3 linked regions of the Homo sapiens genome follow. The protein of the gene in region 3 purifies or fractionates together with the protein of the main gene of each other region. This does not show direct contact. Each region holds a gene or a part of one and is shown on either strand. Other genes may lie near its edges. The genes, in order: WNK1, NECAP1 and SPATA1.

Evidence for each region.
Region 1: the proteins of SPATA1 (region 3) and WNK1 purify together in Homo sapiens (affinity purification with mass spectrometry; one large-scale study listed by BioGRID and IntAct). This does not show direct contact.
Region 2: the proteins of SPATA1 (region 3) and NECAP1 purify together in Homo sapiens (affinity purification with mass spectrometry; one large-scale study listed by BioGRID and IntAct). This does not show direct contact.

The regions. Positions count from the first base shown.
Region 1 is NC_000012.12:884,925-888,581, reverse strand, and holds part of WNK1 (serine/threonine-protein kinase WNK1), read right to left. Parts: coding exon 2,498-3,657; intron 1,362-2,497; coding exon 1,278-1,361; intron 1-1,277. UniProt on the Homo sapiens protein: Serine/threonine-protein kinase component of the WNK1-SPAK/OSR1 kinase cascade, which acts as a key regulator of blood pressure and regulatory volume increase by promoting ion influx.
Region 2 is NC_000012.12:8,080,653-8,084,409, reverse strand, and holds the start of NECAP1 (adaptin ear-binding coat-associated protein 1), read right to left. Parts: upstream 2,137-3,757; 5' UTR 2,122-2,136; coding exon 2,027-2,121; intron 1-2,026. UniProt on the Homo sapiens protein: Involved in endocytosis.
Region 3 is NC_000001.11:84,561,791-84,565,447, reverse strand, and holds part of SPATA1 (spermatogenesis-associated protein 1), read right to left. Parts: intron 2,192-3,657; coding exon of another isoform or gene 2,030-2,191; intron 1,714-2,029; coding exon of another isoform or gene 1,616-1,713; intron 1-1,615. Other genes in the region: CTBS (di-N-acetylchitobiase precursor), read left to right, coding at 1,616-1,713, 2,030-2,191.

The sequences.
Region 1 (3,657 bases), on a different chromosome or scaffold from region 3:
AGCACACAGCTTCCTTCTACCCTTCCACAGTCTAATCCTACATCTGTCTTGGCTTCTATCAATCTATTCTTGCACAGTCTTTGCTTAGGCCTTTCCCTCTATCTAGGCACTAGCTATTTACCCTTACCCCTCCACATGTCTCACTTGCTATTTTTTGTCACACTTTATACTCCCTTAGAAATCTGAATCCATGTTTTTAAATGAGAAAATAAGTTTAAAACTAATTTTCTAACTCCTGATTTACGGACTTTCACAATGCACTTTCCCCCAAATGTGGTGGCTGATGGAGTGCTTTCTCTGTTGGGGTTTTTACTTCATTGTGGCAAGTTCCTCAAATAGTGTTCCCCTGTACATTGGGACCAAAGAAATAGGGATAAATTCCAACTCAGCTTCTCAAGTAAGCAATTTACCATGTTTTTCTTATTTCTTATATATGATTCAAAAATAAATTCCTAATTTAGTTTAAAAGTTTACTGGCTTGTCTCATGTCAGAAGATTTTTCCTGGTCACAACAGATTCACAATTAGTACTTTTCTTATGGAAATTCAACAAATGTGTTGGCGGTGGACTGCGGTGGGAAAGAGAAATAATAAATATTACAGGTAATTCTGTCCACCACTGCACTCAAGTGAGCAGAACTGTGTGAGATGGGAATCTCAAGTTCATGAGGCTGGTCTCAGTTCCTCCATGAGTGATCTCATAATGTTAGCATCTCACTGAGCTCGGTGGCTTTTATTTTAAAAGAGACAGCACACATAGTTTTCATGAAACATCACCCCTATACCTACCTATAAGTAAGCTAATTCCTTCATTAGGTGGCTAGTGAAAGAAATGATCAACATTCAAGAAGAGACTGGTTGCTCTGGACTCGCGGAAAAAGTTTCTCAGTTGCCATATTGTGCTTCTCCTTTCTAGGGCACTCTCAAAGTTAATTTTGATTATATACGCAATTTCGCTATTCTACAGAAGTGTGAGTGATAAAGGGAGCTATATGGGTCTGACAAAATGTTTGCTTTGCTGTTTTCTTCCTTCATAAGATATAAAAAAAAAATTAGTATCAAGTGTTTTTGGATAACCGGAAGCAACATTACAAACAAAAGAGCTATGAAGCTTCTTACTTAAGTAGGAACTGGGTCATTGGTTATAACATTTTAAAAGAAAGGTGTTACTAAGTCAAAGACAAATAGGCAAAAGCCAAGACCACGTAGTGGAGAACTTCAGCAAGCTTTGTCAAAGAAAGTAGGGCACAGGAAGAAATTTGTCAAGTCTTGAGGCACCTGGGTTAGAGAAGGTCCTGGAAAAGGTGGCAGCTGCTCGCTGGGTAGAGTACCTGCTGGAAGTTCAGTACCCACTGGCAGCACCTACAGACAACAAAGGGAAAATCAAGTCCGTGAGACGCTAAATATAAAGACTGCGTACTGAAGAGCAAATCAACTAATTTGAATGCACAAACATAAGAATAAAATATATATAGTTAAGACATGTTTATCACTGAGGTTACTCTCTGGTATCTGTCTTAAAAAAACGGTGTGACAACTAATGTTGTTATTATAGGGGTTACTACGATATACCTATAAAATGAATAGTAAAATACAGTAAAAAGTTGTCCCCTAGGGAGAACAGAACAAAGGCTATATGTACATAAGTGGCAGTGTCCAGATATTCTTGAGCTACTTATTTGGTACAGTATGTATCAGACTTTCGCCATGTAAAACAAGATTTTCTGAGAAAAGAAAACAGTAACTGGTTAAGAAATAACCAATGGGCAGGTCTGATAACAAAAGGCATCAGAAATCTAATACTATTATCAAGAATTTCTATTTTATCTGAGTGAAGATTCTGCATTATCCTACTATAAAAAGAACCTCACATCAATGGCAATGCAGAAAGAGGCTGAAGCATACAATACAGTAGACGTAACACAGCCTTGTTATTTGGAGAAGGTGGCAGAACAAGAGGAAATCCACCACAGCATAATTAGATAATAAATTTTAGTTACTTCAGTCCTAGGATTAGATTATTTATTTCTCCTCTGTATCAATTTCCTTACTAACTTCCAATTTTTTATAACCCCCAAACTGTACAACTGTGGAATCTACAACAAAACCAAAAATTTGCTTCATTCTCACTGAAACAAAGACTATGAACTGCTATTATTTACGTACATTTTGCTGACAGATGCATTTAGCTCCCTTTTGGGATACAGACTTCTTCAGTTTGTACCAATTCAGAAGAAATACCTGTATTTTACCCGATAATTATACCATCTTGGAAAACTGTGCAGCATAATTAACCCTAAAATCCTGCCACACTTGAAAAAAAAATCTCATGTTCATTGTAGATATACCCTCAAACTGCTGTCAATTTAATAAATACTATAAGCCAGGTACCTTTATAAATATGTTTCTAACTTACAAGGCTGAAGTGAAAAATGTACTCATTAGGGAGAAAAAAAACTGATCATATTTATCTAATTATTTTATAACAATAATTTTACCGGAGCCTTAGTTAGAGGTGGCTTGGAGGGAGCAGTTCCAGGTTTCACTCCTGATGTAGTAGTGCTGACTGGGGTAGAAACTTGCCCAGGTGTGACCACTGGTGTAACTGGCAAAGCAACTGTTCCTAGTGGTAAATTGGTTGGTGGTAAGCAAGTACTTGTGGTAGAAGTCAGGAGTTTGCTTGGTGCAACAGCAGTAGTTGGGATGCCTGGTGTGACAGTGCTCTCTATGACTAGTGAGGTCTCCAGTGAGACAGAGGCATGCTGAGCTCCAGATGAGCTGTGTTCACTGAACAGAGACCGCAGCTTTTCTTCTAGAGTCTTTATGTCATCAATTCCAGGAGCTTTGGGTTGTGTATCAGAATCTACTTCAGGACAATGAGTATGGGGCTGGTTGGGAAGCAAAGCTGGTTGAGGCTGACTATGAATTAGTGTCTGCTGTACAGCAGGCACATTGGCAACAGGCTGTACCAAGGGTGGGATACTAGGTACTTGGGGTAATAAAGGTGTAGAAGTAGGTCCTGCTGCTTGGGGAAGAATAGGAGTAGAAGCTATCACTGATGGAATGACCAAAGGATGCAGCCCACCAGGCTGAGAAATATAACTAGACACTCCTGCTCCAGGAGAGGAAGAGGAAGATGGTGCAGAGAGGGAGAAAGCCAATCCAGTTGTACTGCTATGAGATGTCTTATCTAGTGAGTGTGCGCTAACTACCACGGTTTCAGCTAAAGTAGGAGTAGAAGTACTGCTGCTAAGCTGAATGCACAGCTGTGAAGCTGTGCTTGGGAATGAAGTGGTGGTAGAAACTGATGTTAATGTGGCTCCCACAGTAGTGCTGCCTGCTGCCTGCTGAGATACTACAGCTGGAGGCTTAGGACCTGGGGTAGCAGTACTGCCCCCTGCAGAGGCTGAAGTTGCTGAAACTGTTACTGAAGGATACAGTGCTGTACTAGAAACAACGATCTCAGATGTGGATGTGGGGACTTGAAGTGACGGGGATGTAGTAGATATTGAGACAACTGCAGGTATTGTGATACTTGAAACTACGCTGGAAAGTACTGGTGATTCAGACACAGGTGGTATGGGGAGACCACCTGAAGTTACCACACCTGTGCTGGTGGCAACTCCAGCAATCCCCTCTTCAGTGGGCACTGTAACCT
Region 2 (3,757 bases), on a different chromosome or scaffold from region 3:
TGCATATCTAAACCAGAATGGAAGGGTCACATAGGGCCTCCCAAAGAAGGTGATGTTTAAGTGACTCATATAGTACCTGTAACTACCATCTAAAAGCATGTTGATTTCTACTTAGGGTCAGTTTGGGGTCCAACTAAAAGCTTATTAAAAACAGAACTGCTACCTCTTTGCCAAAGGTGCAACCCACAGGGCCCAGCGCACAGGTCAGCAAGCATAAAAATATTGATTCATGATGAATAAAACGCCAGTAAGGGGCAAAATAACAGACATAAGGAGAGGGTAACTTTTCAGCCAAGGTAATGATAAATGCCAGGAGGAAAAATCACAATGATGATGTGGGTCAGAGAGAAGAATAAGAACAGTATCTTGGCCAGGTGCAGTGGCCCACACCTGTAATTTCAACACTTTGGGAGGCTGTGGCAGGAGAATCACTTAAGGCCAGGAGTTCGAGACCAGCCTGGGAAATATATCAAGATCCTGTCTACACAAAAAAATTTAAAAATTAGCCAGGCATTGTGAGGCAATGCCTGTAGCCCTAGCAACTTGGGAGGCTGAGGTAGGAGGATCCCTTGTGCCCAGGAGTACACAGCTGCCGTGAGCTGTGATTGCACCACTTGCACTCCAGCCTGGATGATAGAACGAGACCCTGCCTCTCTAACAAAAAAAAAAAAAAAAAAAAACGACGGCTGGGCGTGGTGTCACGCCTGTAATCCCAGTACTATGGGAGGCCAAGGTGGGCAGATCACAAGGTCAGGAGTTCAAGACCAGCCTGGCCAACTTGGTGAAACCCCATCTCTACTCAAAATACAAAAATTAGCCAGGTGTGGTGGTGCATGCGTGTAATCCCAACTATTCAGGAAGCTGAAGCAGGAGAATCGCTTGAACCCAGGAGGCGGAGGTTGCAGTGAGCTGAGATTGAGCCATTGCGCTCCGGCCTGGGCAACAAAGTGAGACTACATCTCAAAAAAAAAAAAAAAAAAAAAAAAAAGAACAAACAAATAGTATTTGTAACTGCTTTATTGCATTTCCTACATTCTTTCACATCCATTATATGATTTAATTTTACTCTCCCAAAAACCCTTGTTAAGCACATTATAAGAGCGCAGGTATCATCACTAACAGGTTTTTTTTTCTATTTTACAGATGAGAAAATTGAGGCTTGGAAAGGGCTCACACTCATATGGTTTAACATGAAGCCCAGTGAACTGTCTTTCAACTACATAATGTCCTATAGCATCCTCAGAACCTCACAGTCATTGGATTACAAGGTAGGTAGTTAGGCCCAACAGAGAAAAATGCTGCCTCAACTTTGGAGGGAAAAGGTGTAGGAGAGGTTAAGAAGGGAGGTAGGGAAGGAAGACAGAAAATACTATATAATCATCAAGAAAATACAATGAGAAGAAACAGAATGAACAACCGTTGTAAAGCTTATGATCATAACCTTTGCTCACTGGTAAAACTGCTGAAGGAAAAACCGAATGGTGGATGATGACAGTTGGTGACGAAATTGACAACAGTACAAAAAATAAATCAGATAATCCAGAGTGGCAAGCAACACGATTACCCATAAATGTGCATGGGGAACTGGAAAGGTGTGTGTGTGTGTGTGTGTGTGTGTGTGTGTGTGTGTGTGTGAGAGAGAGAGAGAGAGAAAGGATGAGGATGATAAGCTGAAGGACGCAGGGAAGAGCGAATGAAAGGGGACTGGCAATGGAGCAAGCACGACTGAAAGTGCATGATGGGGAGCAGATGGGTGCCCCAGGGGATTACGGGAGAGGCAGAGTGGAATAACGCAGAGTGGTAATTTAATAAAAAACAAAACAAAAAAAAAAACGGCAGAAATATGGTGATGACAGTCCAGAGTGGAGATGGAGCAGGTGGTCAGGGAGATGACAACCCAGGTAGGGAGGCTAGCAAGGTGACAATACAGAGGTAGTAGTGGCAGGGACGGACAGCGTGCTAGCTGAGAAGGAAGCTGTCATCTGCGACAGAGTACGCGTGTGCGGCAGCGCCTCGGGGTTAGTACCTGTAACCGCGGTTGGAGGCCCGGGGCGGAATCCGGTAGACGCTGACGTCTGGCTTCACACACAGCACAGACTCGTACTCCAACTCGGTCGCCATCTTGGGTCCGCTGTCGGCGCTGCCGGGGGCGAAACGTAAGACCGGAGGCGGAGCACGGGAGGCGGAGATGCAAAGCGCGACAACTTCTGTTGCGTCACTTCCGCGCGAGTTCAAGTTAGTTTCTGAGATTAACCTTTTCGGTGACGCGGGGAGCCATATTGAAACCTGGAAACGATGAGGCTGCACGGCTCACCGTCTTGGATAATGGCAAAGATGGCCTGCAAGTGCGTGACTCTCGTTATGGAAATCTCTGTCCTGGAGAGGTGCTTACGAAAAGCGCCATCTTACTCTAGGCAGGTGCCTGGAGTGTCCTACGAGGACGAGGACCATATTGAATCGTGACGGATTTTCTTACAGGAGTCACTTCCTAACTGTAGTCTCCTGGCAGAAAAGAGGCAACCTCCAGCCGGTAGTCCCAGACGAGGTACCTGCAGAGAATGATGTATGATCTGGTCATAGACACCGTGGATTTCAACTCTCCAGAGTCTAAACGCTGAAAACACCCAACTTGATTTAGTGCCTTACACTCTTTATCTCCGATTTTTCAGGACGACACCTGTTAAAATGTTTTGCCACACTTTCGGCGTGTATTCCGATTATCTTTTTGGAAAATTTGATCCTGTTAAATAGACTATACGTGGGATCAACCCAATTCCTGATAAAATCGGAAGCATAATGAACTATCTAATGGCCTATATTAGCTCCCAGTTCTATTATAATGATAAATGCTACCGAACTCTCACCATAAATATGCTTTTTCTGCGCCCCAAAGGTAAACTTAACCACAACACCCTGACAGTACAGATAGCAAGTGGCAAAACTGAGACAGAAACTCAAGCCTGCCTCATTACAACAGCAGCAGTCTTCACCGCTGCTGGAGCTGGCAAGGTCACCAAGTCTGCCCAGAAAGCTCAGAAGGCTAGATGAATATCATCCCTAATACCTGCCACCCCACTCTTAATCAGTGGTGGAAGAACGGTCTCAGAACTGTTTGTTTCAACTGGCCATTTAAGTTCAGTAGTAAAAGACTGGTTAATGAAAACAATGCATCGTAAAACCTTCAGAAGGAAAGGAGAATGTTTTGTGGACCACTGGTTTTCTTCTTCAGAAGGAAAGGAGAATGTTTTGTGGACCACTGGTTTTCTTTTTTGCGTGTGGCAGTTTTAAGTTATTAGTTTTTTAAATCAGTACTTTTTAATGGAAACATCCAAAAATTTGTCACAGAATTTTGAGACCCATTAAAAAAGTTTAATGAGAAAAAAAAAAAAAGCAAACCTGCCTCTAATTTGTCTGCTCCACCTTGGAAAGTGATATCTTAAATTTCAAAAAGAATTACCACATTTATCCCTGGCGAGGACGTGAGGAACAGTCTAATCTCATACACTGTTGGCAGGAATGTAAATTGGCACGGCATTTTTAAAAGGGAAATTAACAGAATTTATCAAAATATTAATTGGACGTAATCTTCAATTTAGCAGTTTCACTAATAAATATTGTAGAGAAATCCTTATATGCACAAAAAAGTATGTACAATAATACTACAGCATTGTTTGTAATAGTGAAAAAAATGGAAACAAAATGACCATCTATCAATGGGAAATGGTTAATGGTATATCTATTACTATGAGATGTTTTG
Region 3 (3,657 bases):
ATAATAGCAAAGATAGATATGGTTGGGCACCTTCATTGCATGATTAATAGGATAGGCATTAACTTCTTTTAGTATCTGTGATAAATTAAAAATTATATTCCTATTAGAATTTGAGTACTTTTGACCTGTCATTCATTTGATGTAGGCTTTGCATTATCCTCTTCAAAGTTTGGATTGGTTTGTATTCCATCAGTCAACTAAATAAAAGATTGCTTGTTCTTTTGTTTTTTTTTTTAATTTTTATTTTTTTGAGCAGGGTCTCACTCCATCACCCAGGCTGGAGTGCAGTGGCACGATCAGGGCTCACTGCAGCCTCAACCTCACAAGCTCAGCCTTAGCCTCCTGAGTAGCTGGGACTACGGGTGCATGCCACCATGCCCAGCTAATATTTTCATTTTTTTCTTTTTCTGAGACAGAGTCTTGCTTTGTTGCCCAGGCTGGAGTGCAGTGGCACTATGATAGCCCACTGTAACCTCGACCTCCTGGGCTTAAGTGATCCCCCAACCTCAGCCCCCTGAGTAGCTGGGTATACAGGCATGCACCACCATGCCCAGCTAATTTAAAAAAGATTTTTTTTTTAAGGAGATGGAGTCATACTATGTTGCCCAGGCTGGCCGCAAGTGATCCTCCCACCTCAGCCTCCCAGAGAGCTTCAATTACAGGCATGAGCCATTGTGCCTAGCCACATACCTATTTAAAGTTGAAAAATAACTTATTCTGTTAAAATTACGAAGTAATTATTAATTGAGGGTTCCCAAACTGTGTTTCAGGCAAGACATTATAATTATGTTCTATCAATAAAAGGTTCAAGCCTTGGGAGGCTGAGGTGGGAAGATCACATGAGGCCGAAGTTCAAGCCAGCCTGAGCAACATAGGGATACTTTGTATCATAAATAAATCAACAACCAAACTAAATAAACCAATATGTTTGGGAACTGATACATACCCCACCCCATTTTTGGTTATTTAATAGTACATAATAACATTAAAGGCTCTAAAAAGTAATAAAGTTTTTTAGCTGAACATTCTAGGTAATCTGTGAATATGTCTTGGTGGAAAAACATGTTTTGCAGCATTGGGCAAGAAAAGGACTGATAGTTCCAGGGATTTGTTCATTTTTCTCTTTGTTTCCTCCCACTATAGATGACACATTTCTTATCCCCAGCTTACTTACAGAATATTTGCAAAACATGGAACACTTGTACTTTCTAAGAAACTCTGAGACCATCACTGCTAGAAAGTTAAGATTTATAAAACTTTTTTGAAACTTTAGAATCTAGAGTATCAAGTATATCATATCTTAGAATTAATAGATATAATTAGCATACTTTCCTGAAATGTGTCATTCTTCCTAGAATTAGATTTTGTGAATATTTTATTTCAGTATGATCTTAATTGTTTTGAATGTTTTCTCCTATTCAAAGAGAAATGGTTTAGAAAGCAAGATATAGAATTTATGGTTCTTAAGGGATGTTTTATAACATATTAAACAATATTAGTGTTTTTTATAAATGTACTTGTTTTTACAAACAGATTCTGAACGGTTGCATAGCTTGTATGAACACATTGACATATGAAGAGAAACAAATATGCTTTTTCTCTCCTGCTTGACTAGGATATAATGACTACATCAAGATGAGCATTAATCCTAAGAAACTTGTAATGGGTGTTCCTTGGTATGGTTATGATTATACCTGCCTGAATCTGTCTGAGGTAGGAACAGTCATTTGTTACATAATTTTTATTATCTATTATATTTTTTAGAGTCTCTCTGTTTTCATTAGAAATATATAAACTTTAGAATCTCTGAAATATAGTTTGAGATAAAAATTATTTATTTTTACTTCTATGAAAGCTTATGATTATCATACATTTTCATTTAATAATGAAATTTATTTTAACCTTTTTTCTGTATAGTCAGGTTTTCTATGGTATATGTTTTATTTCTAAATAATTTATATATTTTTGGTTTGGCTTTTAAGAATTGCATAATTGATAATATATAACATGAGCACTTTTGCATTTCTAGGATCATGTTTGTACCATTGCAAAAGTCCCTTTCCGGGGGGCTCCTTGTAGTGACGCTGCAGGACGTCAGGTGCCCTACAAAACGATCATGAAGCAAATAAATAGTTCTATTTCTGGAAACCTATGGGATAAAGATCAGCGGGCTCCTTATTATAACTATAAAGTAAGACTTTTCGTAAGTTATGAGCATTTATTCTATTAGTTTTTGTAATTATTTTCATAATTAGATGTTTGATATCAAGAATTTCTATCAGTTTTCTTTTAGGGCATAACATGCAGACTGCTATTTACATGAGTAAACTTGTCTTTGAATCTGTAATCAGGAACTTTAGTTCCCTGGCGAGCAATTGGAGTTTTGCTAATGGTGAATCTACTCTGCTTGGGCCACTTGTCATTTAGATGATGCCATAAAAATGTGCATATCACAAACAGGATTTCTGTAACAGTTGACAATTATGTTAGGATGACTGTTGATTTTGAATGGGTTTTGGGCCAAAATAAGTTACTATCTCTGAAAGCCTCCATTTCAAAGTGGCCTACAGATTCTGATGAGACTTACATAGGGAGGAATGAGGCTGAGAACAGAAGAGGTGTCATAATCGACTTTACAATGGAAAAACTATCATTTTCAATTTATTTTATAATTAAATTATAAAGCAATGTCAAAACTTACAAAAATATTACATAAAGGAAACCTGAAGAAATACACTAAGTGATTAGCAATTCTGTCAAGTAGTGTTTAATAGGAATTGCTATACCAAAATGGCAAAGAAAAGTTACAGTTTTCATAATTTACCTTTAGCATTATAAAGGCTCTTCCACAGCTCAAAAATCTAAGTACAAATCCTCTTTGAATTTATTTCAGATTATGTTACTTTAAAAGGAGTACTAAAATGATATAAGTGAAGTTCAGCAAGGATTTATATGCTTAATTAATGGTCTGGTACCCATTTATAAAAAAATGACTGCAAACACACTACATGTCATAAATTATAATTGATATACATGTGTATGCCTCCACAGAGAGCTTTAGTGTAGAGCTTTCTAAACTTTGGAACTGAAAGTATATACCTATTAGTGAAACTAGAGTGTATTGTAATCTTATCTTTCCTAAACAGTGTTTATATTAGTCTGTCCTGGGAACTGTTAATATTACACACACAGATGCACATGTGTGCAAAATATACACACGTGTGCCATGGCCAAATATATTTAGAAAAACACTATATACTGTACGCCCCTCTTGGAGATTTGTAACAACAATTATATTAATGGGTTTGAGAAGTGCTGTAATACATAAGGTAGTTTAATTGTTTGACATATAATCTTGTTTCACAGCATTCTTAGAAACATGCAGTTCTTAGAAACTGTTTCATGGATATGGTTTGTTAAAAGTTATGGTAACCAATTACATATACAGGCATACCTTAGAGATATTGCAGAGTCAGTTCTAGACCACCACAATAAAGTAAATATAGCAATAAAGCAAGTGACATGAATTTTTTGTTTCCCTGTGCATATAAAAGTTATGTTTATACTATACTGTAGTCTGTTAAGTGTGTAATAGCATTATGTCTAAAAAAAGTACATACCTTAATTTAAAAATACTTTATTGCTAAAAAAATGATA